4 separate regions of the Homo sapiens genome follow, and regions 2, 3 and 4 are each linked to region 1. The links come from fine-mapping of genetic effects on gene expression. A gene starts in region 1. Each other region holds a variant in brackets. All regions are shown on one strand. Distances are between the middles of the regions. Region 1 holds the start of PGM1 (phosphoglucomutase 1). Region 2 overlaps PGM1 (phosphoglucomutase 1). Region 3 overlaps PGM1 (phosphoglucomutase 1). Region 4 overlaps PGM1 (phosphoglucomutase 1).

The links.
Region 2: its variant is fine-mapped to the expression of PGM1 in tibial nerve (GTEx, PIP 0.94).
Region 3: its variant is fine-mapped to the expression of PGM1 in whole blood (TOPMed, PIP 0.92).
Region 4: its variant is fine-mapped to the expression of PGM1 in whole blood (TOPMed, PIP 0.99).

Annotation. Positions count from the first base shown.
Region 1 is chr1:63,589,286-63,597,393 of GRCh38, reverse strand. It overlaps PGM1 (phosphoglucomutase 1), which reads right to left and starts at 3,983. Exons shown (of 11, transcript NM_002633.3): 1 at 3,660-3,983. The coding sequence starts at 3,905. RefSeq lists enhancers at 2,947-3,006, 3,707-3,996 and a silencer at 3,367-3,666.
Region 2 is chr1:63,634,108-63,642,215 of GRCh38, reverse strand. It overlaps PGM1 (phosphoglucomutase 1), which reads right to left. Exons shown (of 11, transcript NM_002633.3): 5 at 7,197-7,387; 6 at 5,828-5,982; 7 at 3,416-3,531. Among named protein-coding and RNA genes, the nearest start is that of PGM1, 45 kb to the right of the region's middle. The variant ATTATATGTGGATTC/C (reference allele first, on the strand shown) is at 3,707.
Region 3 is chr1:63,644,688-63,652,795 of GRCh38, reverse strand. PGM1 (phosphoglucomutase 1) reads right to left here. Exons shown (of 11, transcript NM_002633.3): 8 at 4,144-4,279; 9 at 944-1,127. Among named protein-coding and RNA genes, the nearest start is that of PGM1, 55 kb to the right of the region's middle. The variant T/A (reference allele first, on the strand shown) is at 4,511.
Region 4 is chr1:63,610,506-63,618,613 of GRCh38, reverse strand. The region is part of intron 1 of PGM1 (phosphoglucomutase 1); the gene reads right to left. Among named protein-coding and RNA genes, the nearest start is that of PGM1, 21 kb to the right of the region's middle. The variant A/T (reference allele first, on the strand shown) is at 4,644.

The sequences.
Region 1 (8,108 bases):
TAATCCTCACAACAGGCTCTTCAGGTATGTATTATTCCCAACCTTTGTGGATGAAACAAAAAAGGACTAGAAATTTGTATTTGTATCTAATCTAAACTCCCTCAATTTGTATTCATTCTGCTAAGAATTCCTCCTACCAGACAAACCCACTCTGGGAACTCCAAGTCATTCTTTAAGACTCAATTCGGCTACCACCCCTCTATGGAGCCTCCCTCCCTTCATCTTCCCCTCCCAAGTACAGCCCCTCAGGTTAAAGACACCTGCACATCCCTCCATCACAACACCTGACACATTGTGCTGTCTGCTTACTCCTGTATACCACCCCTCCCAGACTATGTCTTTCCCAAGGGCAAAAATATTTTGTATCTCAAGTACAATGTCTGAGGCAAAGCAAGCACATAATAAATGTTTGATGTGAATAAATTTATTGGTCACCAGCTACATGCTGGCTTTAAATCAAGTGCTAGAATACAAAAGTGACTCACAGTTCAGAGCAAATAAACAAGAATTCATTGAATGCTACATAGTCCTAGGCATTGCAGATACAGGTAAAACACAGGTCTGACTTAAAGAAGCTTACTCTCTAGTTGGAGGCCGTTGACATGTAAACGGAAAATTTCACTAGAATTTAATATATATATTCTAGAATTATCTATGGGAAAGGAGCACTTAATAGGTGGAGAAGAGTGGTAGGGATGGGGTGTCAAGAAAGGTTTCTGAAGATGCCATCTGGACTGAATCATATCACAAGAGAAAGAGTAGCATATTTAAATCCCGAGTGAGTAGAGAGAGTGAACAAAATCAGAGAACAACCTGAGCGTAGAAACCTAGGGAATAGGCCAGGCGCAGTGGCTCACGCCTGTAATCCCAGCACCTTGGGAGGCCGAGGAGGGTGGATCACCTGAGATCAGAAGTTCGAGACCAGCCTGGCCAAGATGGTGAAACCTCATCTCTACTAAAAATATAAAAATTAGCCAGGTGTGGTGGTGCATGCCTGTCATCCCAGCTACTCAGGAGGCTAAGGCAGGCGAATTGCTTGAACCTGGGAGGCAGAGGTTGCAGTGAGCTGATTGCGCCACTGCACTCCAGCCTAGGCGACAGAGTAAGACTCCGTCTCAAAAAAAAAAAAAAAAAAAAAAGAAGAAGAAAAAAGAAAGAAAGAAAGAAGAAAGAAACCTAGGGGATAGTCAATGTGCAGCCCATGAAGGAACTTCCAAAAAGTGTGAGTAGAATCAGGAGAGTAAGCAAGGCCAAGGGAGGAAGAACTTTACAAGAGTACAAAATCAGCACTGCCAAATGCAGCAGAAAGGCCAAATAAGATTAGACCAGAGTGTATTCCATGAATTTAGCAACTGGCAAGTCCCTAGTAACTTTGGCAAGAGCAATTCTACTGGAGTAGTGGAGGGGGCAGAAGCAGTGAAATGGCGAGTAAACCGGAGGTGAGAATGAGAAATAGTGAATGCAGAAAGCTTTTACAAAGGTTGGCTGAGAGAAGAGCAATAGGGCAATGGCTAAAGGGTGATGAAGTTTTAAGAACTTTTTTTTTTAGTCTTAACTAATTCTTTCCTTCCCACCCCACACTACTCCCAAATGGACAAATTTCCATCTGGGCACCTAAAATTCCCACTCTGCTGTAAGCTCCTTAAGGACAACTCTTGGGTCTGCATCATCCTTTTAGTCCACACATTTCTCTGAACATGGTATTCAACAGGATCTGTTGAATGACTGACTGAATAAATGAATGAATGAATGAAATGCAAATTCAGCACAGGTGGTAACAGGGAAATGATCTACTGGGATACAGCTATTGTCTGTTCTTCTTTCATGGGAATTTGCGCTTGTCTGAAAATTCAGGACCACAAAGTAAACAAATCCAGGCAATCTTCTCTCACTGATGCTTATAAATGTTTGGCCCAGGAAGGCAGATGTAGATAGAGCCCAGTTTAGATTTTGGAGCCTGGAAAACAGATCTTCAAGATCAAGGGCTGTTCATTCTTCATTCTCAGGAGCTGTTCAAGTTCTTGGGATTGGCAGATCTATATTGGACTCTTAGTGCTGCCATTATAGTTTTTGTAAATTATTTAACCTACCTAAGCTTCAGCGTCCTCGTTGGCAACTTGAAGATACCCATAATAGCATCTACCTTATAGGGCTGCAGGAGGATAAATGAGACCCAGAAATGAAGCGCTTACCATAGTGCTTGGCAAATAGTACTCAATGTCAACAAAATAAGATAAATAAAGTACTATTAAAATGAATAAAAATATCCATTTCAGGGGATGCGTTCCAGAAGAATTGGGCATAAGTCAAATCTCACTTAAAATATAGAAAGAAAACTTGGTCCTCAGAACTCCTTAGAAATGTTTTACAAAAGTAAGTGAATAATTAGCCCCAACTTATCAATCCACTTTTTTTTTCTTTTTTTTTTTTTTTGAGACGGAGTCTCGCTCTGTCGCCGAGGCTAGAGTGCAGTGGCGGGATCTCAGCTCACTGCAAGCTCCGCCTCCCGGGTTCACGCCATTCTCCTGCCTCAGCCTCCCGAGTAGCTGAGACTACAGGCGCCCGCCACCACGCCTGGCTAATTTTTTTTTTTTTTTTTTTTTTTGTATTTTTTAGTAGAGACGTGGTTTCACCGTGTTAGCCAGAATGGTCTCGATCTCCTGACCTCAGGTGATCCACCACCCTCAGCCTCCCAAAGTGCTGGGATTACAGGCGTGAGCCACCATGCCCGGCCCCACATTTCCATATATCAGATTTACTGAAAAACTTTTTTTTTTTAATTTCCCCTATCCGAGTGGACCCGCCCAATCAAGTCAGTTAACTTTCCTTGGCCGGGGGCGGAACCAAGGTGTTGCGGTAATTTCCTGGCCTGCCACGACTGCTTGCTTGCGTAAGGGCGTCTTTGGGTATGTTGCCATTCTAATGAAAATTCAGCTCCAGCCCCGTCGGTGGAACAGATCCCGGGCACCACTGGGCAGAGACTAGATGTTTCAAACGCCTGCCCCCCAGCAAGCAGGCCGCGCAAAGGGCAGGAGTTCGGAACCAAGGCAAACTAGGGGGCGGGGAGAAAAGATTGGCACCCGCCTGCTGAGATCTGCCAACCTGACGCCCCAGGGGGATGGGTGCTCTCGCCACCCTTGCCCCACAGTGTCGGGCTCCGAGCCAGCGGGAAGCGCCAGTCCTAGCCGAGAATAGCAGAGGAGCGGGCGGGATGCGAGGGGGCTCTGGGCGAGGCGGCGGCAGTCTAACCTTTCCTGCTTAAGGCGACAGCACTCTGCGCCGTAATCGTATCTTCCAAGGCTGCAAGGTTAGGGCAAATGTCAGACGCCTCGGGAGGGGCGGGGGACGGGGAGAGGGAAGGCAGCGGCTAGAGACGGAGAGTCGGGCGTGACCTTGGGAGGCTCCGCGCCCGCACCTCCCGGCGCCCCGGGAGTCAGGCGAGCAGGTCTGCCGGGTCCCGTGGCCACTTTCCCCAGCCCGGCGACCTCCGTCGGGCCTCCAGGCCAGAAGAGCGAGCGCGAAGGAGAGGGAGGAGCGGGAGGTGGAAACCGAGGCGGCAGCGCGCGGAAGCGGCCGGCCCCGAGCGAGGGAGGGCGCCGCGGGCCGCACGTCGCACACGCGCCAGGGTGCACAGCGGCGCGGGGCCGCGCATCCCTTACCCCGTTGGCGGCAGCGATGCGAGCGATGAGCTGGATGGCCTCCTTCATGTAGAACCGGCCGTCCCCGCCCACCACCAGCGTGGCCTCCTGCCGCTGCGCCGGCTCCACGGTGGAGATGATACTCTGGATGAAGTTCTCCGCGTAGTTGGCGCTGCTCTGGAACACCTTCACCCGCTTCCGCAGCCCGCTCGTGCCCGGCTTCTGGTCCTGGTACGCCTGGGTCTTAACTGTCACGATCTTCACCATGGTGGCGACTTGCTGCCGGGGGTCAGAGCGGCGGACTTGGCTGGCGGAGGGGCGGCCGGCTGAGGCTGCAGCTGCTCTGGGGTGAGGGCACGGCGGGTGGGGGCTACGCCGCACTCTAGGCCGGCGTTTGGCCCTCCTCCTTAAAGGGACAGGGGACAGGGCCCTCCCTCCGCGCCAGCCCACCTCCTGGCAGGTCCGGCGGGAGGGGAAAGGGGAGCGCCGGTCTCTAGGCCTCCTGTGAAATGGGTGGAGCCTTACTGATTTACTCTCCCCTTCGGAATCCTATCCACTGTAAAAAGAGGCCCGCAACTCCTCCTCTAAGTGTTGGGGCAGAGGTTGGGGTAGGAACCCGGTCATAGGGCAAGGACGTGAGGCAGGGTGGAAAAAAGTACAGGGTAGAATGATTTCCAGTGGTTTGGCGAATGCATCGTGTGTAAATAGCTTTCTGGAAACCTGTTGGGAGGGTCAGAAGTGCCAGCCCCAGCTCGATTTCATGAGTCGTAATTCTTTCTATTTCTCCCTAAATGTGAGGGCATTTGAGTTCCGTAAAGGAGTCGACTCCAAATGTTTCCTGCTGCACCACACACTTGACTACCATTGGTGACGGTGACTTAGCTATGACTTGCTGAGTGTAGCGTTTCTAAACCTTACTAAACTCTGGGTTTTATTTTTCCCCTTTTTATGCTTACAAAACTGAAATTCAAAGAATAAAATGCCTTGTCTCATTGCCACACAGCTAAGTCCATGCGGGAGGCCAATTCAGGTGGTCTGGCTCCAAAACCAGGGCTCTTCCCATGATTTGCCCGCTGTGACACCAGGTTGGCAACTAGGAAATGTACAAGCAGGACTTGACAAATGTAGGAGCAAATATATGGTAAGGATAAGTATGAACACCATCAAAATTAGCCAGTTACTCATGTAATAGAAATAAAGTGAGGAGATCAACAAACAAGGACTGACATGGCTGGAAAAGTTTCACGGGGGATAGCAAGGTCAACCAAGGGGATTTGATTATTAAGTAGGAATCTTCAGTCTTTCTTGCTTTTCGGTTTAGTATCTCCCTTAATTTGATGAGAGTGATTGTCTCCTCTGTTCAAGAAACCTGTCATTTTGGTAAAGTGGCAAAAAACTTGGCTTTACAAGGTGTGTGCTCTTGGGAAAGTTAGTTAATGTCCGTGGGCATCAATTTCCTTACTGTAAAATAAACATATCACCTACTTTGGAATATTTTTGCAAGATTTAATGGGGTTTTGTATGTCAGAAATTCTCAGTCATGGATACACAGTAGAATCCTACTGTGACCCATGCTCACAGTAGAATTACTTGAGGTGGTTTCTAAATGACCCAGTCCAAACAAATTCAATCATAATCAGCTGTTAGAAGTAAATCATCTAGCCTGGTGCCTGAAACATAGAGGCCTTCAAAAATATTAGCTCCCCTTCCCCAATTCCAAAACCAGAGCATATCATTCACCTGTGAATTATATTCTTTTGGTAGTTAATTGGTATGTCTTGATCAAGCAGGGAGGCGAACAGACCCATAAGAGTGCAGACTCTCACAAACCAAGTGTTGATATACATGCTCATATAGTACATGCTATGTAGATACAGTGTGTTGATGTAGTCACTATAGATGAGTTTCGGTGGCAAATATTATGTGAAAACGGAACCCTGGACTGCTAGTAATGAGTTCTAATATTTGCACAGGAGTTTACAGAGCAGTGTAATCTTGTGAATTAAATAATATAATCAAGCCCATTTTATAGACGAGAGAATTGAGGATTGGATGGTGAATGTAATCAAGGTTATCTAACTCCACAAAATGAAAATATAGCATAGATTCACTGAGCCTTCAAAATACCTACCTTAGAGTTGTATGGTTTAGATAGAGAATATACAGCTCCTACCACAGTGCTAATAAGTAAGTCATCAATAAATGATAACTTGTAAAGTCACGGGCCCAAATTCAGATCTCATGCCCTTTCTATATTCTTCAGTATCTTTGGAAATATGATGGAGCTTTTCATTTAAGAGGAATTGATCTATACTTCTCTCACCCCAGAAGTTGTAACAATTAGCTTTAACTGCATAACACACCAGTCTAAATCTGAGTGGCTTAAGACAACCCCCATTCATGATTATAGTTCATGATTCTATGAGTTAACTGGCAGTTCTGCTGTTCTGGACAGGGTTACTGTGGCCCCTTATACAGACCTAACATGATCCCCATGTTCCTTGCCTCCTGATAATCATGCCTTTATGCAATCCCCTTGTATTACAGATTGAGTATCCCTTATCCGAAATGTTTGGTACCAGAAATGTTTCAGATTTTAGATTGTTCCGGATTTTGGAATGTTTGCATTACAATGGTTGTGCATCCCAAATCCAAAAATCCCAAATTCAGAATGTTCCAATGAGCACTTCCTTTGAGTGTCATGTTGGCACTCAAAAAGTTTTGGATTTTGGAGCATTTTGGGTTTGGGATTTTTGGATTTGGGATACTCAACCCGTACTTTTCTACTGCTGTATGACAAATTACCACAAACTCAACAGCTGAAAACAACACCCATTTATGATGTCACAATTCTATAGATAAGAAGTCCCAATTCTATAGATCAAAAGGTTTGGCCAGGTTCAATCCTGGTAATCACGGATATATAACAGCTTATAAACATCAAGGAGAAAGTATTTTGACCTTCATTAAATTCTTTTTAAGGCAAGCATACCTGTTTAAACTGATTTGTCTATAGCCAGTTGGTTTAATTTCATTGAATTCTTCCCAGAGCCTCAAGATAAGAACCCACCCAAGCTTGGTGCGTTCTTATCTGGAGCCTCTGGGAAGAACACCTTGATTTGAAGTCAAGAGCCAAGCTGGCTTCTTATCTGGAGGCTCTGGGAAGAATTTCTTTCAAGTGTTAAAGATAAATAAAAATAGAGGCTCCAGTTTAGATATTTTAAGTCCAACCACCCATAGCCAGGTAGCCAAAACTTAAGTCATCCTTATTTCCCTGAAACACTTGCTCTAGACATAAACAAAACACAAAATGTCCTTGACAGTGTGAGTCAATGAAATTAAACCAATCAGCTATAGACAAATCAGCTTAACAGCTCTACTCGCCTTAAAAAGAATGTAACGAAGGTCAAAATACTTCTTCCTCAATGTTTATAAGCTGTACTGTAACTGCTGTGAGCTGGGCTTCTTGCCACTTTTGGTTAGATGTCTTCCAGTTTGTAAACTGTTCTTTGTATGCATGCTAAACTTTTAAAAATTTTTAAAGTTTGATCTGATTTTAACACAGCGCATTCAGATTGCTGGCAGGATCTATTTCCTTGCAGTTGTAGGATTGAGGTCCCCATTTCTTAGATTAGACCTACCTGGATAATCTCCCTTTGTAACGTGTTCATAGGAGTAATGTATCATCGTATTCACAGGTTCTACCCACGTTCAAAAATTGACTTGCAGAGATTTCCAAGTTGTAGTATTTATGAAAAGCAAGAGAAGGAGTCTTATTCCCCTGTGGGTAGCACTGAAATCGGGAAAGAAGCCATTGGAAATATACCAAGATATGCAACAATGATTACCACTGAGTTGCAAGATAGGGCAATGTTTATTTTCTTTATATTTTATCTGGATTTTCCAGGTTTTCTATAGGGAATTTGTATTATTTTTAAAATGATAAGTACATATTATGTATTTTCCTTTTCTTTGAAATACCTTTTAAGTGGTAATCCTTACTTTTTTTTTTTTTTTTTTTTTTTTGGAGACAGTCTCACTCCATCACCCAGGCTGGAGTGCAGTGGCACGATCTTGGCTCACTTCCACCTCCACCTCTGGGGTTCAAGCAATGCTCGTGTCTCAGCCTCCCAAGTAGTTGGAATTACAGGCACATGCCACTATGCCCAGCTAATTTTTGTATTTTTAGTAGAGATGGCGTTTCGCCATGTTGGCCATGCTGGTCTGGAACTCCTGACCTCAAGTGATCTGCCTTCCTCGGCCTCCCAAAGTGCTGCAATTACAGACATGAGCCGCCACACCCGGCCCTCATTATTTCATTAATGAATTATTCTTTACCATTTAGATGTATTCGTTCGTGTATTGATTCATTAACTCTATAAATATGTTTTGAACTTGTACTAAATGACAGCTCTTTGAAAGGTGTTTGATGAATAAGACAAAATAGTCTCGGCCGGGCGCGGTGGCTCA
Region 2 (8,108 bases), 45 kb before region 1:
TTTGTTTTACTCGGTGGACCAGTCCTGAAGTTAGACTCCTTTGCACCTCTTTGCAAGCAAACTTCTTTTCTTTTGTAAAAGTGCATTTCTTCCCGCAAAGACCCTGGGGTTCCCAACCCTGGACTGTGGAGTGGAAGTGGTGTTGAGTCATTACAAGGGTCCCAGACTACGGCAAGAGGTGAGGTGTGGATTCTCCATTGAGGTGGGTGGTTCAGCCAGAAAGCAGTGACCAGTCACTATGGTTCCAGCATCATACAGGAATTTACATCAGATACCTTTTAAAGTTCTTTCTTTTCCAATAGCAGGAATCTGTCTAAATGGAAGGTGCCAAGTGAATAGTGTTCATGAACTCATTCAACAAGCGTTTACTGAGCACCTGTTCTATGCTGGGCTCTACGGGAGGCTCGAGGGACACAATGCAGGATAAGACACATAAGATCTCTGTCCTCATGGCATATACAGCCAACAGACATTAATCAAATAACCATAAGTAATTGTAAAATCACAGCTGCAACAAGTACAACAAAGAAGAGGTACATGGTGCCACAAGAGCCAATAATCAGGGGATTTGGCCCACTCTGAAAGGTCAAGGAAACGTTTTTGAGAAATTGTCTCTCCTATCGCCTGGAAAAATACAGAAATAAAGCACTCTGTGCTCAATTAAGCTATAGAATTCAAATGTTTCAAAGTTCATAGAGTCACTAATGTCTACCCTGAGAAACTCTATGAAAGAACTGTTGGAAACATTCACTAGCAAGGGGCGTGGTTGCTAAAAATTAACTCCTCTATAAATAAGAAGATCAGGAGTTCAGTTAAATAAGCCCAGCTGCACTCGTTCACAACAGCGATCTATGGCTATGCAGCCTGGCTGTTTAAATGTTTATCTCAGAAATATTACACAAAAATTTTCTTTTTTTGAAGAGAGAGAGAGAGAAAGAGCTTGTGATTATCCTCATGATAATGAAGAGCATTCTCTCTTTGGACATGAAATATACCAAGGAGAAGCTAAAACCATGATTGGTACTAGGTATTTGTTGAATGTGTTAATAAATGAGAACAAACTTTAACAATAGTCTAAAGTCTAATACTTTGGTTCAAAGAAATCAATTCCACAAACATAACATGAGAGACTTCCCTTGGCAAATAGTTCTAGGTAAAAACTTTAAGGGTTTAATTACCCACAACCTTATGTGGGCTAAACAGTATTATGCAACTTCCTAAAAACTAACATAAAGGAAAGTTATGTCAAGAAAAATACAGTGTCCTAATCACTAGAAATAATCATCCCACCCCACTCTTCACTTGCCAGGCCAACCCTGGAAGATTTGGGCTCAGTTCTGGGCATCACCTTCTAAGAGTGGCACTGGCAAACTCAGAAGCACCTAGAGTCTGGCACTGAGTCTATAAACAATGTGAAATGAGGAATGACTGGAGGAAACAAAGATGGACGGCCTGAAGAAGGAAGGACCTGAGAGCTGCTTCTTGTATTTGAAGGCCTGTTGTGTAAGAGGAGCAGCTTGTGCTATCCTGTCTTCAGGCCTGTTCCCTGTGGGTCAGCACCAGGGATTCCTACTTGGCTCTGGGGCTCTGATCCCTCTTGACCAAGGCTTCCCACATGGGTCTGTGGAAAAAGAAGTTACTGTACATACTACGAAATGATAATAATAATAATCATTATTGTGGTGATGATATTGTATCATATCATCATAATTATTATATATAGTGGTAAACTATATTTAGGCAAAACTGTACTAACAGGATTCTTTATGGCAGAATGTTCTGGAATCTTCAAATGCTAATATCATTGTGAATATCCAAAACAGAGAAGTGTGGTCCAATTTTTCCAATTTTTCTTGACCCCTAGAACCCTCTCATGGAACTAGTATTCTTCCACATACTCACATGCTCTGGGAAACCTGACTCTAGACTTTTATCTTTTCACTAGGCTCAACACTGATACTGGTACAGGAGAACAGGAAAACAAAGGTTTTGACACAGTTGCTGCCTTCAAAGACATCTTCATTCATAAAGAATGACTGAAGCCAGGCCTGAACTAGATGACCCTGTGGGGAGTTTCATGGGAGAAGACCACCTCATAGGCTCATTGGGCACTCATGTAGTATCCCTCAGAATAGCATGGCACCATGCCCATTATATGAAGTAGAAAAGGACTAAGCAGTGGCCTTGTAATCTCTGATTTAAACACCCACAACTTTGGGAAACTGTCTAGCCTTTGTTGTGGAAGTTGTTCAACCCCAAGACTCATCCAGCCTTCTTCATACCTTCCAATTCTATCAAGGCAGTTCATTGCCAAGGAATATTACCACTCTCGAAAATATCAAGTTGCTTAGAACTCTGTAAATATGTGCCTCCAATTTAGCAGCTCATTCTACCTGCTCTACCTCCAGACTTATAGGAAAGGAAATGAAGTCAGTATTCTGTTCTGTTTAACCTGGCATGAATTGCAACTCAATTGCAAAGCTGAGAGAATGCTTGATTTTGATCTTCTTTTCTTCACTAAAGGGTGACAGTAGAGTACTATAGGACCAAGATCAGCACATTTACTTAAAAATATTGGGTAGAGGGAATAAAAGGAGAAGAGATGCAGTCACTTAACTACCTTATAACCTGGCCGGAGACTGATACATGGGACAGGGCCACACACCTGAACAGACTTTTAGGAAAGAGAGACTGATACAGGCAGCATGAGGTAGCAGAGAAGGTCGTGAAGGAGGTGGGAGTTCGGGTCAATATTTGGACAAGCAGAGAGGAGGAAGGAGAGCGCAGAGAGTGAGGTCTATAGGTCTGGGGTCATCCCCTGAGAATACTATGTACCCTTCTTTCACTCTAATATTAATACAATTACACAAACATCCTCAGGCACAACGATGTATTTTTAATTTCTTGATCACCTAGCAACTTAGTTCCACCCTCATGGTCTTCCTTCATTTAGCCTTGATTACTCTGCTATAGAAAACTTGGGCCTATAAAAGAGAAAGATTTAATGCTGTGCTGAAACCTCTTCTTAAATAAAAACAAAAAACCGACTTGCTCCACCGTATTTCTTCTCAGAAATGAAAACATTTATAAAGGTTTCTTTGACCACCGAAGGAAGAAAAATCTGTTTATCGCTCTGTTTAATCCCTGCAGACTCAATGACCACGCTGCTGAGGAGGCCCCCCAACTTCCTGTCTGAGTCGATATGATCCTCTGAAAGTAAAATTAGCCTTTCTGGCTGAATGTGCTCACCCCTTTTCAAATGTGCACATTTCATCAGGGTTGTTATAAATAATTTGTGCCTTGATTTAGGACACATCGGCTACCGTTGGTATTTCAGTGCTACCTTAGCAGTCTAAGCTTTTACTGGAAATAGTGGTTACAGGGAGGAAAATGCTAGCACAGGAGTGTGACTTACCGGTCCCGAAGCTCTCCTCCCCACAAAGGGACAGTTTGCTCGCGTCCATCAAATTCCCAAAAAACTTCCAGCCAGTTGGGGTCTCATACAAAGCAATCTTTGTAGCACTAGCCACCCTTCAAAGGCATGAAATCAAAGTTACATCACAGCAGGACTGTTAGCGTGGCCATGTGAGGGACGGAAAAGGGCAATCGTTATTGTAATCAAGGGTCCCATTTAGCATTGCTCAGAGTCATACATAATTCTAAGATTGGTGGAAAATCATAAGAGAAACCTTGTGCACAATGGGCT[ATTATATGTGGATTC/C]AGAGAAGGCGGAAGAAGAAAGAATTAATTCAGATCATGGAGTTTAATATTTTAGAAGAAGCATCCGTAGTAAAATGTTCAGGGCTGCTGTTTAAGCTATTTAAATCCACATTTTGGATACAGACTGCATCTATAATCAATCTATAAAGAAGAGAAGAATGATGTTTTGATGCACCTGTAATCACAGAATCATGACATACTGGGTCTGGGCAGTTAGCATTTTACAGAGAAGGAAACAGGGCCCAGAATGTTATGTGATCAGACAAAGGTCACAAAGCCAGGATGACCGACCGCCCAGTATTCAGCTCTCTGGTCAGTGCTGCTTTTGTCTCATCAGAAGTCTCCCCAGGGGAAACGCCCAGTGGGGTCTCCCCTAAGTACTGGCTTCACCCACACTGATTAGTGGTTCCCCTTCCCTTCTAACACGTCTTTTATTTCTCTCTAGGTATCTTTAAACTATTTAAAACCTCTGAGTGACTTAAAAAAAAATTCCTTTCCCTTTGAACATGAAAAGTTACCTGATAAGTTCCATTCACTGTTTGAGCGAGATTTGCTTCCCAGAATGTTTGCCTTATTTCCAGGAAAGCAATGTCAGCTTTGCATTCTGATATTTGAGGAAAAATCAAATCTATGATTTTGAAAACTATGAAAGTACAATAAACTTTTATCTGGGTAATGAGGTACTTCAATTGTGATTCTATATGTGGATTATCAATTTTTCCAAAAATTGGAATTACACTGTTCTTGGATGACATAGAAGGTATTCCAGGACCTGACAGGCCTAACATATGATAGTGTGACCTCAAACCAGCTCATAATTTCAAATGCAGGACCTGATGGTAGACGTGCTGGGCTCAAATGCTAGCTCTAATTTGGTGGTGAGATCTTGGACAAGACTGCTAACTTCCCTGACTTTCCATTTCCTCTTCCTTAAAATGAGGTCTGCTGTGAGGATCAATTGAGATGGTGAATGTAAAAAAACACTATACAAACTACAAACCACTATATGGATATTAGTGGCTATTTTCTTGTTAGCTGAAGCAAAGTCAGCACCAATTCTATAACCATCTCCCCTCTACAGAAAACAACTGCATGGCCCAGTGAGTGGGAGCAAAGGCTCTGGGTTCAAATCCTGAGTCAGCCATTTACCAGCTGGGTGACCTCAGGTAAGTTACTTCTTCGTCCTTTGGTTTTCCCACCAGAAAAATGGTGTTAAATACAGCATTTACCTCATGGGGTTCATCTGAGAAGTAAATGAATTAAAACATGCAAAATATTTAGTGTCTACAACAAAGTAATGTTCAATAAATATCAGCTATTATTATAAGAGCCTAGAGATATATTACAGCCTACTTTCCTCCCTGGCCTTGACCTTTTATTCATTCATTCATTCTTTACCTTTTATTCATCAAACATTTCCTGCACACCTGACATATTCTAACTAATGTTTTCCCTGGTCCTCATCTGTTATGACTTTCATTTTTCAACTTTTTAAGTGTGATCTAACAAGCCACCTCAAAGCCTTTGTACAATGAAGTGATATATAAACATTCACTGTGTTTGTGTGGGCAAGAGCGATCCAGTCGTTGAAACTCTAAAATTACTTCAAACTGCTCTTTCACCCACACTCTGTGCACACTGCAAAAGAAAAGTGATCCTCCAGAATGATGTCTTGAGTACTTCCATTGTTATTCATTAACACTCAACTATTCATTAACTTTAAAAAATTATACGTGTATGTGTGTGTGTGTGTTTGTCCTACTATGTGCCAGGCACGCTATGGTCAGGCAGAGTCCAGATGGTGAACAAAACAGTCCTTTCTCTGCAGAAGTATACAGTCTAGCAGGGCAGCCCATCAAGAAAACAGCTACTAGAACACAGTGTGGTAAGTGCCAGGAGGAGGAGGCCCAGGGTGCCAAGGGAGTGCGGAGAGGGGCATTGAATCCAGAAAAAGCCAACCATCCCCTCACACAAGAATCGCTCAGCACACTCTATGCATCAGATGCCCATGCTGAAAGGGAAGGACACGTGTTCCAGGCACAGTGAAGGGTATGGTGAAGACTGGGACGACCTAAGACAGGAAGGCCAAGGGAATGGAGACACCTACCGGTCCAGAGCACCACTCGTGGGCATGCTCCGTGCAAAGCCGCGGACCCCAGTCTGCTGGAAATACGGAATGCTGAAGATGTTGGCAGCAATGACAGCCACAGAGTCTGAAGGGTTCACAAAGAACCCATGCTTGCCCAGAATCATGTTTCGATCCTTGGGGAGAAGAGAGGATCAAAGAAAGACCTTTTAATCAAACTATAAGAAATCAAACTATCTTTCATGGGGGTTTTATAAAATGTAAAACTATAAAATTTGAAATTGATCTCCTTTCCATACTGCATTTTTAACACTGGGTTTTATTTTCAATGAGTTTATACAGTACCATTGGGCCGAAGGCACCTCCATGCCAAAAAGTTAAAACTGTTTTCAATTAAAGTCCAAGCACAACCTCCTTTTGAGCTGAGTCCTCTGTTCTCCCTCCAGAGGCCAGCTAACTTTAACCTCCTAGACTTTTTTCAGACTCTGGAACCAATCATCTTTTTCCCAGGGGAGGGGAAAATGCAATGAGAGAAGAAATATTGGCTGTTTACATAGTTTGGTAGGTCTACTGGGTAAACTGTGTACCACAGTCTGTGTACCACAGTAACTGGGAGGGTGGCCAAAAAACACTCCCAGAATGCACTCATCACAAAGATGTACTACAGAATAATGTCTGCTGGAACCCCTTTAATTTCCCAACATTTTGATAAGGGAAAAATCATTTTTCAGGAAACAGTGGATTCTAGCTAATGGTAACACTAGCAACAACAAAAATATATTTTCAACTAAGTAAATGTATACAGTGCCTACCATCAGTGAGATACCAGGGATATAAACCTAAGACACATCTCTTCCTTGTCTGGTACATAGTCACCCTTGTAAATAAAACAGCTTATTTCTAAACATTTTAATGGTAGAGAATGATTAAAATGTTAATTCTCTCAATATCATCTTCATATAGGCAATGAAATTACAGCTTCAATATTCAGCTCATGTGAATGAATGAATGGGTGTATTATAAGACCAAAATCTTGTCCAGAGATTAAATAAGTAGCCAGCTGCTGGTTGAGAGCAGAAACCCACCTTAAGACAGGCATCTAGAACTCACCCAGCTCAGGAAATACCAGTCATTCTATCATAATCAGAACCTAATCATCGTGCCATTGTTAGCAAGTATGGATGTCTGAAATTAAATGTGTGGGTTTCATTTCAATGACTCCTATTCCTGTTCAAGAGGGGCTTCTAATAATTTAGTTCTGACCTCGGGTCAGAATGAGGGATCCTTAACAGTTATTCCCTGGGTCTGGCAGAAGCAGCCCACTTTTTTCCCCATCTGCAGGATCAGGCCTGGCCTGCACCAGAGTTCACTTAAATGCACTTATACCCACCCCATCTCCATCAAAGGCAGCCCCAAAATCATGCTCTCCTGACTTCATGGTCTCCACCAGGTCAGCTGCATAGGTGAGGTTGGGGTCAGGGTGGTGGCCTCCAAAGTCCTCCAGAGGAACGCAGTTAACTGCCGAGTTCGCAGGGGCACCGAGTTCTTCACAGAGGATCTTCTTTACATACGGTCCCACAACTATATACAGCATGGAATAAATGTATGCAGAATCAGAAAATAAAACTCCTTAAAGTATGTGAGGATTCAGGGGTGAGGTGGATGCATTCTGGGGAGAAGAATGGCATGAGAAACAACAGGAATGTGTGAAATGTGTTCAGGGACTAGTGGAGAGATACGCCTGACTGGAGAAGAATGTTCTCTAAAAAGGAACAATGAGAGATTATGTTGGAAAAGGTGGGGCCAGTTCATGAAGGGCAGAGTGGGGAAAGGAAAGGAAACCAACCATTATAAAGGCCCTGCGGTATACCTGTGCTTTCCCATTCAGTCCTTCAGAAAAGCTCAGAAGGTTGTACAGCTTAGAGCTTAAGAGCCTGGACTCTGGAATCAGAGTGTCTGGGTTCAAATCCCAGCTCTGCCAGTCATTGGCTGTATAATAATTTTGGGAAAGTTATTTAAACTCTCTGTGCCTCAGTCTCTTCCATCTGCAAAATGAGGGTAGTAATGCTAACTACTTAACAGGATTGATGTAAGGATTAAATGAGTTAATAGCTATGAAGTACTGAGAATAGTACCTGGCAGATATGTTATAAATGTTTATATTATGATTATCACCTGCAGTTTACAGATACATTGGAATGTTGGTGTTCTGAGGTAAAGACATTTGCCCAAACTTACATGGCTAGGAAAAGTGGGAATTGGGATTCAGAGCTGTTATCTTTATATTATGACAAGCTAGCTG
Region 3 (8,108 bases), 55 kb before region 1:
GTTGCTGTGGCCCATCCATCCATTCACTGCCTGCTCCCCAGAGGGAAGCCTCCAGTAAATCCCACGGCCCGGCCCTTCCAAACCCTATGAGATGCCTTGACAAGGACCAGGCCAAAAATCTGGGTCAATTGGAAAAAAGTAAACTGGGAGGTTGTAACAGAATCTTCATCCTGCTCTTTATTCTATTATGAATTGTGAGAGATGAGTTTACTCTGTGACAACAGGCAACAGAAGCAGAGGTGAGAGAACCCTGGTGCGTAAGTGTTCATGAGAAGCCAGGAGAAAGCCTGACCCAGCCTGCAGCCTAGGGTACCCGGCACACAGTAAGGGAAGCACTAACAATTCTGTCCACATCTAGAGATGCTCCAGGTCCTAAACTGTGGCGTCTTGCCAGGTACTGCTGTGTTAGGTGGGGTGCCACTCATGTGCTGCGAATGACGATGGTCAACGTTTCTAAGTCTGGGAATGCCTCATCTATTTTTCTCTCCTTTAGAAATTAGAACATACGAGAGAAACGTATAAGTATAATGCCACTTACATGCTGTCACTCTGCTATAATCTGCTGACAGAAAAGAGAGGAGTTGACATCTAAGTTCCCACAGTTCTCCCTCTTTCTTAGATTCTGGGGCTCCTTTCTGCATGTACAATGGACACATCATCTTGCATATCATTCCAGAGAGTGCAAAAATCCCTCTGGAGTCCAGGTTAAGAATCCCAGAATGAGGGTACTGGACAGTGCACAGAACAAGGGCATAAACCACTGTCCCAACGAGTGCATGTGAGAGTCACGTGGGACAGCAGAAAACCAGGTAAGAACAGCTACCCTAGAAAAACACAGCAGCAAAAGAAAAATAGCCAACAGGAACTTTTTAATTTTTCCCTTGAGATGTCAGAGATGAAGCTCTGAGGTCTCTCTCTCACTTACACACCGGTCTGTTTCTACCTGATTTCTTGAAATGCTTCCATCCACTGGGTCGCTGTATTCAAAGTTATCGGCCTTCTCCACAGTGTAAACTTTGTCATTTGCTGAGAACTGCTTCCCCACAAAGGAGCGATCAAACATCAGGGCCTCCAAGTCCTTCATCATTTTGTTTGCGCCCTCAGCTTCCACCTCCTCGTAATCATACCTGGAAGAAGTCACGAAGTTGAGGCCCACGGGCTGACTGCAGATCACACCAAGGCCTATCAGTCAGCACTTTCTTCATCATTTGTTTGGCCCTCCCGCAAAACTATCTAACTTCAGAAGAAGCTGGCAAAAAAAATACAGGCCTGTCAGTCACTGGGGATGGAACAGGCCAGGGATGAAAGGAAGGGTTTGGAGGATTTCAGGGAAGGGTTATGAGCTTCTGAATAAGCAGAAAACACCCATCTTGGCATTTCTACAGAATAAAGCTCTAAGATGTTTCAAAGGCTTTTGAAAGATGCTATCTAACATTTAGTCACCACATCCTGAGGAGGTAAAATGAAAAGCAATGTTATCTCTGGAGAACTCTCTTGAAAGGAGCACGTGACTCAGGCACTTCTCCTCCAAGCTCCCTGGGCTTCTCTGGGGTGAATGCTGGGCCTGCTCCCAGCCTGAGACCTGCCTGAGGCTGCTGAGATTTTGACTAAGCAGAGTTCCAGCTCCACAGGAGCTTCCTAAAGCAGGGCCAAGTTTTCACCGACCAGATGAAGACGCCAAACACTGACTCTTTACATCTAAAATGCCTTTTTTTTTTTCATTAATTTTAGTAAGTTTCAAGATACATGTGCAGAACGTGCAGGTTTGTTATATAGGTAAATGTGCCATGGTGATTTGCCGCACCTATCAACCCATCACCTAGGAATTAAGCCCCAAATGCATTAGCTGTTTATCCTGATGCTCTCCCAATTTTTTTTTTTAAATTTTGTTTTATTTTAAGTTCTGCCTCCCTCCTTTCAGTGGCAGTGGATTTTGGTCCAAGGTCCTTTGGGTTCACCCTGACAGAAGAGGCCCAGTGCGGATGAAAAAGGGCCAAGGAAAAAAGTGCATCACAAATGAAATTCTATAAAGATGAGTTTTCCTTCAAGAATTCTTTTTGACTTCTTTCTTATGATGTTAAAGACTTGTACAGGTGGCTTTTCTTGACCTAGTGGCATACACCCTCTTGAGAGAGTTATTTTTTAGAAGCTCAAGATAGCAGAGTCTATATTTATTTGTAATCGTGAAATAGATATCATATATGCAAGATGACACCTCTGAGACATGAGAAATGCTGAGGAATTAAGGCCAGCCTATTCTGGCTCCAGGATTCTATGAATCAAGGGCCAAACAGTCCCCTTAATCTTAAAGTCAGCTCTTTCCCCTAGTTAACATGATAAACAACAAGAAATTACAACCAGGTGTTTGTGCTTTACATTTTTGACCTCTGGGTACTCCAGAGAAATGTTTTCTAAACCCTAGGCACAGAGGGGTGGAATAGAAGAGTCTGGGTTTTGCAATCAGACAGATGAGCTATGAATCCAGCCTCTATTGGCTATTAATTGTGTGACTACAGGGCCAGCTGCCCTATCTCTCAGAATCTCAGCTACCTTATCAATAACTGTTTTGAGGCTAAAGTGAGACAATGCATGCAAAAGTGCCTAGCGCTTTTGTTCAGTAAGTGGAAGGTATAATGGAGTTTTAACTAATCATAAATGCAGGTACTAAGGATTTGATTTGTAATACTTGGTTAGCAATTATATTTGATAATTAATAAAATCATGTTAAAATAGTTTTTATATGGAGGATTGTGACTAATTCAAGGGTGTGACCCTTTCTCTGAACAACCCCTCCTAACCTTATTCTACTCTGGCTATTGTTCACCTGTTAACTCATTCATTTATCGGTTCAAAACGTATTTATGCAGTCTCTACTATGAGTTGGGTGCTTAGGGCACAAAAACAGACATGGCCTTGTTTTTATGATACTCTAGGTTCTAGACAGTTCATGACTGCTGTTCTGAATGACCAGGTTTTTCTGTCTGTTATAAAGTAGGGATTTTTTTGCCTTGGTTCCCAGGGCTACTGTGTGGTGTCAGGTAGTTATTACTTATTCCTTCCACAAAACAGTAACGTGAGAGAGAAAGAGATCAATGAATCCGTCCAAAGTTAATAAAATAATTCTGATTAAGGAGCTTAATTTACTTAGTTGAATTCTTTCTTGACTATCCAGAGATCACGGACTATAAAATCTGGGATATATTTTTTAAATTCTCTAGTCTAACTCACCCATTTTATAGAACAGGCAACTGAGGTCCAGAGAAATTACACCTATTCATTTCTTATACATAAACAATTCATCTAATATCCTTTTTACCATATTTTCTCTCTATAATTGGAATACTGAGGTCCAGAAAAATTCTTGTTAGATTTTTACACTAACTGGGGGAAAGGCAAATTGGAATTAGTGAAAAGTACTACTGTCAAAAATTTTTTAATGCTTTTTAAAAATAGAAGTACGCATGATAAGGAATAATTACTAAGTATTCTAAGTATTTTGTTCACTGCTGAATTCCAAGTACCCGATGGAAATCGGGTATACAGTAAATATCTGTTGAATAAATTAAAAAAATTATTGACAAGTATATAGCCCTTGGGGACCTATTTCACAAGGCAGAAAAGTCGATGTGGACTAAGCATAACTGTTTCTATAATTTATGAAAAAAAGTTTCTAGGCTTTCAGTGCCCCAAAGTTAACAAAACATTTTCAGACTCATTATTCATTTAATCCTCTCAACAGCTGGACTGTTATTCCCATTTCTACAGATGACAAAACTGAGTACAGAGAAAAGCTAAATGGCTCCCCAATCTAGTAAGGGGAAGAAATAAAATTCTAATCCATTTCTCTGAATCCAAATCCAATGTTATGATCATGTCCACCCAATGGACACATTTAAAATGCTTATAAAGCATTTATTCTTTTGATTATGTTAGCTAAACTTTTAAAGCCTCACTCTTTATGGCTGACATAAAAATTGACTTCATTTCATCCCTGACCAGATTATTTTTAAAGTCTCCAATTGAGAGAGGCTGGATGACCTAGGGTTTTATTAGCACTTAAGACAGGAGAGGCTGTGGATGCGCAAGAATTCTCTCTGCCCACTTCCCCACCTTACCTTGTACCCCAGCTGGGCTGTGGCTCACCTGGTGAAGAAATTCCGGCCATACTTTTGCCAATGATCTTTGAGAATGTCCTCCACACTCTGCTTGCGGGTGGCTAGGATGGAGAGCCAGGCAAGGACAGCCCACAGTCCATCTTTCTCACGGATGTGGTCAGAACCTGGAGGGGGGACAGCAAGCTGCTGTAAGAAACGTGCTTTCTCCCAGTACCTGAGAAGGTACTTGATATGGTTTGGCTCTGCATCCCCACCCAAATCTCATGTTGAGGGAGGGACGTGATGGGAAGTGATTGGATCATGGGGGACAAAGTTCCCCCTTGCTGTTCTGGTGATAGTAAGTGAGTTCTCATGAGATCTGGTTGTTTAAAAGTATATAGCACTTCCCCCTTCAC[T/A]CTCTCTCTCCTGCAGCCATGTGAAGAAGGTGCCGGCTGCCTCTTCATTGTTCTGCCATGATTGTACATTTCCTGAGGCCTCCCAGCCATGGTTCCTGTACAGCCTGCAGAACTGTGAGTCAATTAAACCTCTTTTCTTCATAAATTACCCAGTCTCAGGTAGTTCTTTATAGCAGTGTGAGAACAGACTAATACAGTACTCAACAGTAGGTGTGCAGACCCAAATAAAAGAGTCACACTGCCTGACTGAGGACTTGGGTATACAGGAGGAATCACATATTAAGTAGGCAACATGATACTGAAAAGAAATTGATGCTTCCCAAAGTGATTTAGAAATGTAAGGCATAAGTCAATAAAAATGTCAGTGAGATAATTAGGTGGAATTTGATATATCAGTTATAAAGTATTAATGTGAAGAGAAAACACAATAGATCTTAAATGAACAAACAGCAGAAGAACATGACCATTACAAAATTTCAATAATTCAAATAGTCTGGTAGCTTAATAGAACAAGAGTGCATCTGGAAAGAGATCCAAGCACACAAGAGGCTTGAGTATGACAAAGGTCTCACTGCAAGGCTGTGGGAAAAGAGTAGATTACTTTTTAAATGGCGTTTGGATAACTGGATAAATAGCTTTAAAAAATTGTTTTCTTCCCTATAAAACACCATAACAAAAATAATTCCAGTTGAACTAAAAATTCGAATGTAAAACCTGAAAGCTTTTAAATACTAGTATATATTATATTAATATACATGTCTTTTTATATATTTATATATATAAATCTTAGGGGTGATAAATAATGTAAATTCGGTATTCATAAAAGAAAACACTGATGTATTTATCTACTTAAAAATCAGCATTTCTATAGTGTAAAACTACTATGGACAAAATTAAAAGCCCATTGACAAACTTTAAAAAATTAAAGAGATCTGGTTGTTTAAAAGTGGATAGCACTTAAGGTAGATGTTTAATACTATATATATATATATATATATATATATATATATATATATATATATATATGTAAAATTTTATTTTTTGAGACGGAGTTTCGCTCTTTCGCCCAGGCTGGAGTAAAGTGGCATGATCTTGGCTCACTGCAACCTCTGCCCCCCAGGCTCAAGCGATTCTCCTGTCTCAGCCTCCCGAGTAGCTGGGATTATAGGTGCCCGCCACCATGCTCAGCTAATTTTTGTAGTTTTAGTAGAGACAGGGTTTCGCCATGTTGGCCAGGCTGGTCTCGAACTCCTGACCTCAGGTGATCCATCCGCCTCGGCCTCCCAAAGTGCTAGGATTACAGGCGTGAGCCACCATGCCCGGCCACATTTGATATATTTTAAGGCAGATGTTTAATACATTCAATATAGAAAAAATTCTTATGTATGAATAAGAAAAAAGAATTTCAATAGAAAAACAGGCCAAGGATATCAATAGGCGATTTGCCAAACAATACACATAGACACATACACCCAACCAATTAGTATAATAAAAAGCTGGTGTTATTTTTAAGAAGAAAAATTAAAGTTAAAACCACAATGAGAAACTGCTACTTGCTTGACAAAAGGTGTAAAAATCCACAAGTGTAAAAATCCGAACAGCCAGTGCCAGGAGAATAAAAGGGAAACGGGATTCCACCAAAGAGCTGGTGGGAGTGGACGCTGGCACAATCCTTCTGGACATCAATTTGGCAAAAAAGGATCAAAGCCTTCAAATTGGACCTACTCATGGATCCAGCAACTCCAAGACACTGTTCTTTAACCATTAAGGTTTGGTTAAACAAACCTTAATGATGTCTCTTAAAGGAGACATCTGTCTCCTGCTAAGGTCCTTGCTAAAATCTTTAACAAAATTTTAAAATGGGCTTCTCGGGAGGATGTGCTTATATGCATGGACACCCTTTTCCAAGAGCCTGATATGGAACACAACTCTCATTTTTTTGCCTTTAAACTCTTTATTCTGAAAGAAAGCAGTCTACATGGAGCCTTATTTTCTGATTTCTGAATAGAACTGTACACAATTGCTCTATAATCATGCTCTCACATTATCCTATGTTGAATTCTTTATGTGCCTGCCCTACTGCACTTCCCGCTGGTCTTATTCTTCTTGGAATTGTTAGAGTATCTAGCACCATGCTGGGTATGCAGGAGGCACGTGGTGTTTTTCCTTCCTCTCTTCATCTTTTCAGACCCAGCTCAAATGTCCTCTCTTTTTTAAGACTAGCTCCCAACTTCCCTAGGCAGTCATGAACTCCCTTCTCTTTCTTCTCCTGTAGCAACCTGCACAAAACATCTGGGGTGGCATCAGCCTCCTCGAGTCTCAACCATCTGTTTGTGAGCCTTTCTCCCCACTAACTGTGTGCTTCTTACGGGCATCTCTTATTTATCCTTGTAATTAAGTCTGGTGACTAGCATAGCACAAGGAATACGGTAAATAACTAATTATGAAAGACTGTGTGAATGAATCAACCAATCAATTTACTCCAACACTTTCTCTTTCTATTTTTGGTTCTTAAAAAAACATGACTTTTTCTTTCAAAAGACTTTTCTCTTCAATAGGATACTACTTTTAGAAGTTAACAGTCCTCAAAACCCGGATGCAGGCAAAACTAGAGAGTAGGCAATATTTTTAGTGCTTTATATAACATATTTTAAAAATGTTTACCTAATTTTACTATCTTTAGACTTTTATTTGCCCTTACTGCTATTTTAAGGAGCAAAAAGCTCTCTGGCTCTTACGGCTTTTGCAAATGATATGTTTTGGCAACAGTTCATCCTGAGAAGCAAGATTCTGGCAGCTTCCCTAATATATTGGGAATTCATGACAGCATATACAGCTTGGAATTATTTGTCTGTGCCCCACTGGGTTTTTTTCTTCCTTCTTTTTCTCCTTAATTTTTTTTTCTTTTTTCTCTTTTGGCTAGACTGAAAGCATAGAAGGCAGTGTTCCTTGTGGCTTTTCCTGCCCTAAGCAAGGAATTTGATTTTTTCTTTTATGTGGAAATGAAAATAAAATCTAAAAATCTTACCCAACTCTGGCCAAGTTACTTGGAGATAACTAAATCATACACCTAATACTATAAACAAAATACCTGCCCTGGGTAACATAAACAAATATCCAATTCCAATTGCATAATCCTCAGCCTCTTTGGATATTCTGGTTCATCACTAATCACCTTGGATGTATCAAAAATTCCAGGTAATTCAATTAATACTCAGGAAGTTGGAGCAAATTTCATTTTCTTCAGGGTTCTGATGAATGATGCCAAGTTTCCAGTGGAAAATACCAATGGTGCAGGTACGTGTTTCTAAAGCTATTCTTTTTGCAGTTGTGGCTCAGTAGATAAAGCTTGATACTTAAGAATCAGATAAACCTGAATTTGAGGCTCTGTTACTTGTAAACTACTTGAATTTGGACAAATCACATTTTCTGTGGCTCAGCAGATAAAGCTTGATACTTAAGAATCAGATAAACCTGAATTTGAGGCTCTGTTACTTGTAAACTACTTGAATTTGGACAAATCACATTTTCTGAGCCTCAGTTTCTTCAACTGCAAAACAGAAATAATGCTAACTTCTCTCTCATAACTGTGAGAAAT
Region 4 (8,108 bases), 21 kb before region 1:
TTAAGTGTACAGATGATGAAATATATCACATAGGATACAAATAATAAAATGAACATAGTATTAATATTTTTGGAGTAAGGGGGGGAAAACTAGGTATATTTGGCATTTGAAATACATTTAAGAAATGTGGGATATTAGTTTATCTAAAGATTAGCCTTGTGGTTCCAGTTTATAATTAAGTGCAGGTTGTGTTACTTATTTAGACAGGATTTTAAGTTTAAGGAGGTATGAGAAGAATTTTATGAGAAGAATTTTATCAAAATTATAAACATTAGTGGAACATTCCAGAAAACTTGGACTGTATTATATTTATAAGTTTAAGTCATCACATGCAGACAGTATACTATAGTACTTGAGGGAATGGCCTCTAAAGCCAAAGTGACAGGGTCTGAACCCTTATTCTACCAGTTACTAGTAATATGATCTTGGACAAGTTACTTAACCTCTTTGTGCTTCCATTTCCTCATCTGTCAAGATGGAGATAATGATAGCAGCTCTACTTTACTTGTTGTAGTCAAGTTTGAATGAAGCAATTTACAGATAGTTCTGAAACCAGGGTGGCTATAGTATGCCCTGTACAAGGATCTGCTGTTATTATTTGATTACATGAGAACAACTTGAATACTTGAAAAGTTTTCCTTATTAGACAAGGAATTTTAAAAGAAAACAAATATTTGACTTAAAAATTTGAAATATTCATAGGTGCTTGATTAAATGAGTTTGTAAAAAAAAAACCACACACACTGAGAAACCTAATTTCCATTGACAAATGGGTCAGCAGAGAGAGAGGAAAATGAAACAGATGTGCTGAGACAACCAGGAGACGCTGCCTGGGTTCCTCTTGTTTCAGGGTCTTTTTTTTTTTTTTTTTTTTTTTTTTTTTGTGGGGAGGCAGAGTCACTCTGTCTCCCAGGCTGGAGTGCAGTTGTGCAATCTCTGCAACCTCTGCCTTCCAGGTTCAAGCAATTCTCGTGCCTCAGCCTCCTGAGTTCTCGTGCCTCAGCCTCAATCCCACCTGAGCTGGGATTACAGGTGTGTGCCACCATGCCCTGCTAATTTTGGTAATTTTAATAGAGACAGGGTTTCACTGTGTTGGACAGGCTGGTCTCGAACTCCTCATCTCAAGCGATCTGCCCGCCTGGCCTCCCAAAATGTGTCTCAGGGTCTTGAAGTCCATCTGCCCCACCACTGCCTGTGGCTGCAGGAGACGCCCCTCTCTCTGTGTGCAGTCCTTGTGTGTCAGGCCTCATAGGGGCTCACTGAACCCTAATTGGGCTTCTGCTACTTATAGCTGCTTACATCTCTTTACAGGGCTGACCAGGGCTCCGTAGTACCTGGGTCCTGTTTGCCAGCTGTGAGCCAGGCCTCACCTGCTGTCCAGTACAGGCAAGAAAAGGAAGAGAGAACACTTCCTCCCCTTCTCCTTTGAGCTCCCTCAGTCCACAGCAAGGAGACAGGCCGAGTACCATTTTCTGACTAGGGGACCGTGGGCAAGGGATGTAGGCTCTTTGTGCCTCTATTTTCTCACCTTTGAAACAGGGATTGAAAGTGGTAGCTACTGCATAGATTTGTTGTATTAAGAGACAGGAGTTTACAAATGTAAAGAGCTTAGCACCAGCTGGTTCTAGTGCTTTGCAAGCCCTGCGTAAGTATTAGCCTTTAGCACTGCTCTGAATCTGAAAACAAGCAGGCGTGTTTCATACCCAACAATTGGGACGGGCCATTGGCTATGTGCATTTTAGTAGAGTTAGGAAATGTTCTCTAAAGAAAAGGAGAAATTACATTAAAATTGGAAGAAGGTACAAGGTCAGAAGAATTACAAGGGCCAGATGGCTTAGAGCTCTACAGAATCCCATGTTCACAGAGACTCCTGAAGTAGATTTTGAAAATAAAAACAAACATAACAGCTGCCTCTGCCTCAGAGAGTGTACAACCTTTAGCACGCGTCAGTTGGCTGTCCATCTGTTCACCCATCCATCTACCCAATATGTCCTATATAGACCGATGTGTTGTATTCATTTCACCAGGCACTGTACACCTCAGGAAGACTCAAGTTGCCAAGAAACTTTTGGTGCAGAAGGAGAGATAGATAAGCCAACAAATCATTTTAAAATGGAGTAAAAAGTACTCATCTGGGAGCCTACAAGAGAGCTATGAGCACTCACAGGGCAGACAAGAAGCCATGGAAGGCATTCTCCATCTGCATAATTGCCATTCTGAACCCATGTGGTTACGTCTGAAAACAATCTCCTCAATTTGAAGATGTGCAAGGCTTAGGAACCCCTTTTCATAAGTAAGGCACGTGTGAAGGAGTCTCCTGTTTTATCAGAAATGACCCATATTCAAACATTTTGACCTATAAAAACAGCCATTTATGTGGTTCATATAACATTTTTCTATGTCTTTTATTTCCTTTTTGGAGAATTCTCAAGACAATTTGAATTTCAATCCCTTAAGAATATTCACTTGGCGCTAACAGAAGAACTTTCCCCATTCTAACTTACCAGGAGCACAATTATTAAAATTCTTTGGTAAAAAGAGAACCAGTTAAGGAATCGCTTTATTTTCAAATCATTCATGGTCATATGTTGCCCTCTTGTGGTGGAAAATGGAAAAACAAGCAAGATTGCCAGCAGCCTCGTAAGGGGCAGTGCTTCACTCACCTCTGCCCAGAGCAGCCTTGCACAACTCTATGGGCTCCCTTCACCAAGATCACAAGGGAAATTGTGCCCCTTTAAGTTTTGTGGCAGGCAGTGGTTGGCCCTCCATCAAATAATTAAAATATGGTGGGACTCTGGGGCTTTTAAGAAGAGGAGAGAACTCCTGACCTCAAGTGATCCGCCTGGCCAACATGGTAAAACCCCGTCTCTACTAAAAATACAAAATTAGCCAGGCATGGTGGCAGGGCCTATAATCCCAGCTACTCAGGAGGCTGAGGCAGGAGAATCGCTGGAACCCGGGAGGCGGAGATTGCAGTGAGTCGAGATCGCGCCACTGCACTCCAGCCTGGGCAACAGAGTAAGGCTCTGTCTCAAAAAAAAAAAAAAAAAAAAAAAAAAAAAAGAAGAAGAAGAAGAGGAGAGAAATGGTGAGGTTATTTTCTGTCTGTCTCATTATTAAGATCATTTTCAATTATATGGTCTGGCCAAAATAGGATGTCCGGCTGTAAAGGACATGAAAGAAGGTGGCCACAAAGAGGGAACATCCTTTTCGATGGGGTCCTTGTAAGCCAGAGTTTCCATAAAATGCAGAGAGTGAAGCCTCCTTTAGAAGGTTCTGAAAGTAAATGAGGAAAGGTATGTGTGAAATGCTTCTCACAATGCCTGGCCATATAGTAGACACTCAATAAATGTTATCCAAACTACTAAAAACAGAAAGGGTATTGATAAGGACTGATCACATCCTTCTAACACATCCCCTGATCTCGAAAGCAGGTAAGCCTAGGTAGGAGGGCATAGATGCAATGGGTTTATCTGTGGATAAATACTGATTAAACATCTCCAATGGTCCAGGCACTGGAGGAATGGGACAGGTAGCAGAAGGAGGATTTAAAGAATCAAGTACAGTCCCTGCTGTAACCACTGGGCTCTGGAGTCAAACAGGCCTGAGCCTGAATCCTTGCTTTGCTCGAACCTTCTAGTGGTATATGGCCTTTCTGGCCTCAGTTTCTTTATTTGTAAAATAGTAAGGACAATGATGCCTGCTCAAAGGTAGTAGAAGATAAATTCAGTAGGCCACAATGTGCTGGGTCATGTTTCAAATGCATTACAAGCATTAACTTATTTAATCTTCACAACAACTGTATAGGGGCTTATTATTCTCAGCCCTTATCCTAGGGATAAGGAAAATGGGGGATACAGAGATTATGTCATCTGTCCGAGGTCAGGTAGATTGTGGAGATGGGCTTTGATTTAGTGAACTGTCTGTATATCATTCATTTTACATATAGATTTGATTCAGCCAACCCAAGTTAGAAGGCTTGCTCTAAGAAGACACCAGGTCATACGCAGTCTGTCTCCAGAGCCCAGACATGTAACTATCATGCTACCTTGCCTTGTAATGTAATATGCAGCCAGGTGAACAGCAAAGACTCAATAAACAAGAGCTTTTAAAGCATGTGGGTAAATGTGGGCATCTGTGGGAATTCCTTAGATGGGCAGTGGCTCATGGGGGCAGCAGCAAGGCATTCTCTCTTGGCCTCAATCAAGGCTTCAGTGAGAGCAAGGCTTTAGGGATATAAAAAGTTGGACTTTCCTTAAAAAGTTTAGGAACCCCTAGACTGTAGCGCTACATAACTATTAAAAAGGGTCTTGAGGAATAGAGCACAGTGGAAATCCAGGTTCAAATTCCAACTCTTGATACTTTTTAGTATCTTGGAGATCTTGGGCGAATCACTTAGCTTCTATTTCTGCATCTGTAAAACAGAAGTCTAAATACCAATCAATTAAGAGTTGTTGAAAAGACTATATGAGATCATGTAAAGTGCTCAGCACAGTGAATATCATTACATGTAGGTTTTCATGCAGGCTTAATAACAACTCAGTGGTGTAGGTATTCTCACTATTCCCATTTTACTGATAAGGAAACTGAGGATTAAAGAAGTTACACGAGTTGCTCCAGGACTCACAATAAATTGGAAAGGC[A/T]GGCTTCAACACCAGTTTTAAAGCCAAAGCTCACGTTTCTCATCATTGGGCTATGTATGGCTCCTTTGGATGATCAAATTTGTTTAAACTTGAAGAAAATTAAGAGGAAATAGATCCCAAGTGACTCCCAAAGGGCTACTGCCCAAGTGCAAAGTATATGTGCTTTGGTGTCTGTACAAAACCCACCTGCATTTGGTGGACAGAGTATAGATGTCATGGTTGAATGGTGCACTACTCCCGCCCCCTCCAAAAAAAAAAAAAAAAAAAGATACATTGAAGTCTTAACCCAGGAACCTGGGGATGTGACCTTATTTGGAAATAGGGTCTTTGCAGATGTAATCAAGTTACAATGAGAGCATACTGGATTAGGGTGGCCCTAAATTCAATGACAGGATTTAGGAGAGGGAAATTTGGAGACAGAGACAGAAGAGATACATAGGGAAGAATGCCACGTGAAGACAGAGGTAGAGATTGAAGTTACACTGCACCAGGGATTGCTAGCCACCACCAGAAGCTAGGAAGAGGCAAGGAAAGAGTCTCCCCTAGAGCCTTCAGAGGGAGCATGGTCCTGCTGTCACCTCGATTTCAGACTTCTAAGCTGCCAGAAGTGCAAGAGAATAAATATCCATTGTTTTAAGCCACACAGTTTGTTACAGCAGATAGCAGCCCTAGGAAACTGCTAAGTGCTTAAAAAAAAAAAAAAAAAAAAAAGATAAGCCAACTCCTTTTGCAGCAGAGTGGCTGGTCTGAGTGACAGGCAGTCTGGGTAGACTATTCCTCTACCCTGCCCCCCAACCCCCTACACCTTTTCTTTGCCTCAGAGTGTTTGGTTTCTAGCATTAAGTAACCCTGCATGGGCCATGCTCCATATACACAAACAAGCTTCCTCCTTTGCTCTGTGGTATGGAGAGACTGCATCTCACTCATTTTTAACCTCAGTACCTGGAATGGGGTTGGGCACATACAGATAGTCAATAAATGTGTGAGTGACTAAAATATTTAAGTGAGAGCATCAAACGACCCCTGTAATTAGTGTTTCTGAGCAAGGAGGCGAGTTTTCAGGCAGGAGTCAGGAGTGGTTTCCCTTCCTGAGACCAACCTCAAATAGAAAATTACTCCCCTAATCACAGACAACTTCCCAAAGCACAAGGTGTCTACAACAGAGGGCACTCTGCCTGGAACTGGCATTCCAAGTAGTTGCAATAGCACAAAGTCTTGTGCAACAATTACGAACAGAACTAGAAACTGCAATAGTGAAGGAAGTAGAGCCAGTTAGTCTGCATGGTTGAGGCTGAAAGCTTATAATTGCTTCCCAGGATAACTGCAGGCAGAGTGATGAAGGAGGGGTCTTCATGGCGCTACTCAACATGAGGTAGAAAAGTGGTGAGAGTAAGAGAGAAAAAGAGATGAATGCAAGCGAGAAAAAGAGGGTCCCAGCTGACCTAGCATCCCAGCCCCTTTCCTAATATTAGAGCAGTAGGATACAACACAACCACACTGTATGTCAAAATTTTTTTTGCGTCTATAAATGTATAATTTAACTTAGTGAACTATATATCAATCATTCTACGTATGGGTTCAGGCCAGTTGACCCAAGTTAGAAGGCCTGTCCCAGTGAAGACAGTAGGTCACATGCAGATGGTGTCACGTGTCACGTAACCTGCTGGTTAAAGAAAGAGAGTCAGAGCAAACTGATAGAGCCTTTTTTTTTTTGAGACAGAGTTTCGCTCTTGTTCCCCAGGCTGGAGTGCAATGGTGTGATCTCGGCTCACTGCAACCTCTGCCTCCCAGGTTCAAACGATTCTCCTGCCTCAGCCTCCCAAGTAGCTGGGATTACAGGCACGCGCCACCATGCCCGGCTAATTTTTGTATTTTTAGTAGAGATGGGGCTTCACCATGTTGGCCAGGCTGGTCTCGAACTTCTGACCTAAAGTGATCCACCCACCTTGGCTTCCCAAAGTGCTAGGATTACAGGCCAGGCGTGAGCCACCACGTCCAGCTCCTGATAGCCTTAATATGTTACTGGGCAAATACTTCAACCCAATCCTCCTTACAAATAGCATTTTCTGAGAAGGAGTCTCGCTCTGTTGCCAGGTTGGAGTGCAGTGGTGCAATCTCGGCTCACTGCAACCTCCACCTCCCCTGGTTCAAGCGATTCTCCTGCCTCAGCCTCCCGAATAGCTGGGACTACAGGCATGTGCCACCACACCCAGCTAATTTTTGTATTTTTAGTAAAGACAGGGTTTCACCATGTTGCCCAGGATGGTCTTGATCTCTTGACCTTGTGATCTGCCTGCCTTGGCCTCCCAAAGTGCTGGGATTACAGGTGAGAGCCACTGCGCCCGGCCTACAGATAGCTTTTTAGGTTTTTGATCCTGTCTCCAAAATCCTCCCTTCCCTCAGGGCCATAAGAGAATTCCCAGGCTGGGCCTTAGGATAATTCCCAGACTGGGTCTTATGTTGGCCTGTGTATAAAAGAAAGCCTCAGGGGTTAAGGACCTGTGTGACCTCAGGGGTTAAGGCAGCTGAGTCACCGGCGGCCTCCCTCTTCCCTTCCTGCAATGCTGGAGTTAGGATGAGTCCTACTTTACAGTCTAAGGCTGTGCTTTTACTTTCTACAAGGATCTCCTTGTTTTGCAAGGGCTGCTCCCACTACACAGAATGTCTTCTTCATACCCCCATGTCTACACTTTTTCCTGGCTTCCTCTTTATCATCCTTCAGGACTTGGCTTAAACACATCTCCCCTGGGAAGCTTCCTCTGACCACCCCTGCGTGTTCCCCTCCCTAGGGCCCCCAATACACCCTAACGAGGCACTTCTCACACTATATTGCAATGCCCACTTGCGGAGACCGTTTTATGCACTACTGCATGCCCCAAATACACAGCACTGTATTAAGCAATAAGAAAACATTCAGTAAATGTTTCAGGGATGGAAAGCACCCCATCAAATCTTATTCACGGAGATTTCTGGAGCAAGTGGACCTAATCAACTATTCACCAGAACCACTATCCTAAAACCATAAGGGGTAGACCTGGCATACAAACACCAAACACCGTAACCAGTACTTAAGCTACTCAGGATCAATTTTGCTTACTTTGGGGCTGGCTGCTGTGTTCTTTTGAGAAAACTTAAGTATCAGGCTGACGACATATTACTGAAAACCTAAAGTTATACAGAACAGTTCTCCCTCCCCCCAGGCTCTGTGCATGAAACACTCTCTGTAAGAAAGATATTTCTGTTCTGAAATTTATAAGCTAATAGGTGTAGAGCATCTTGACAGGTCATTGGCAAATCTGGGAAGAAGAGAAGTTAAAATGAGGGGGTAATGGCCGGGAAACCTTTTGCAAGAAGTTTAAAGTGTCTGTATTTCCCATCAAAACCCCCAACATATTAATTTCACAAATGAGTAAAGAAGCAGCTCAAGCAATTTGCCCAAGATTAAACAGCTAATAACTACCATGT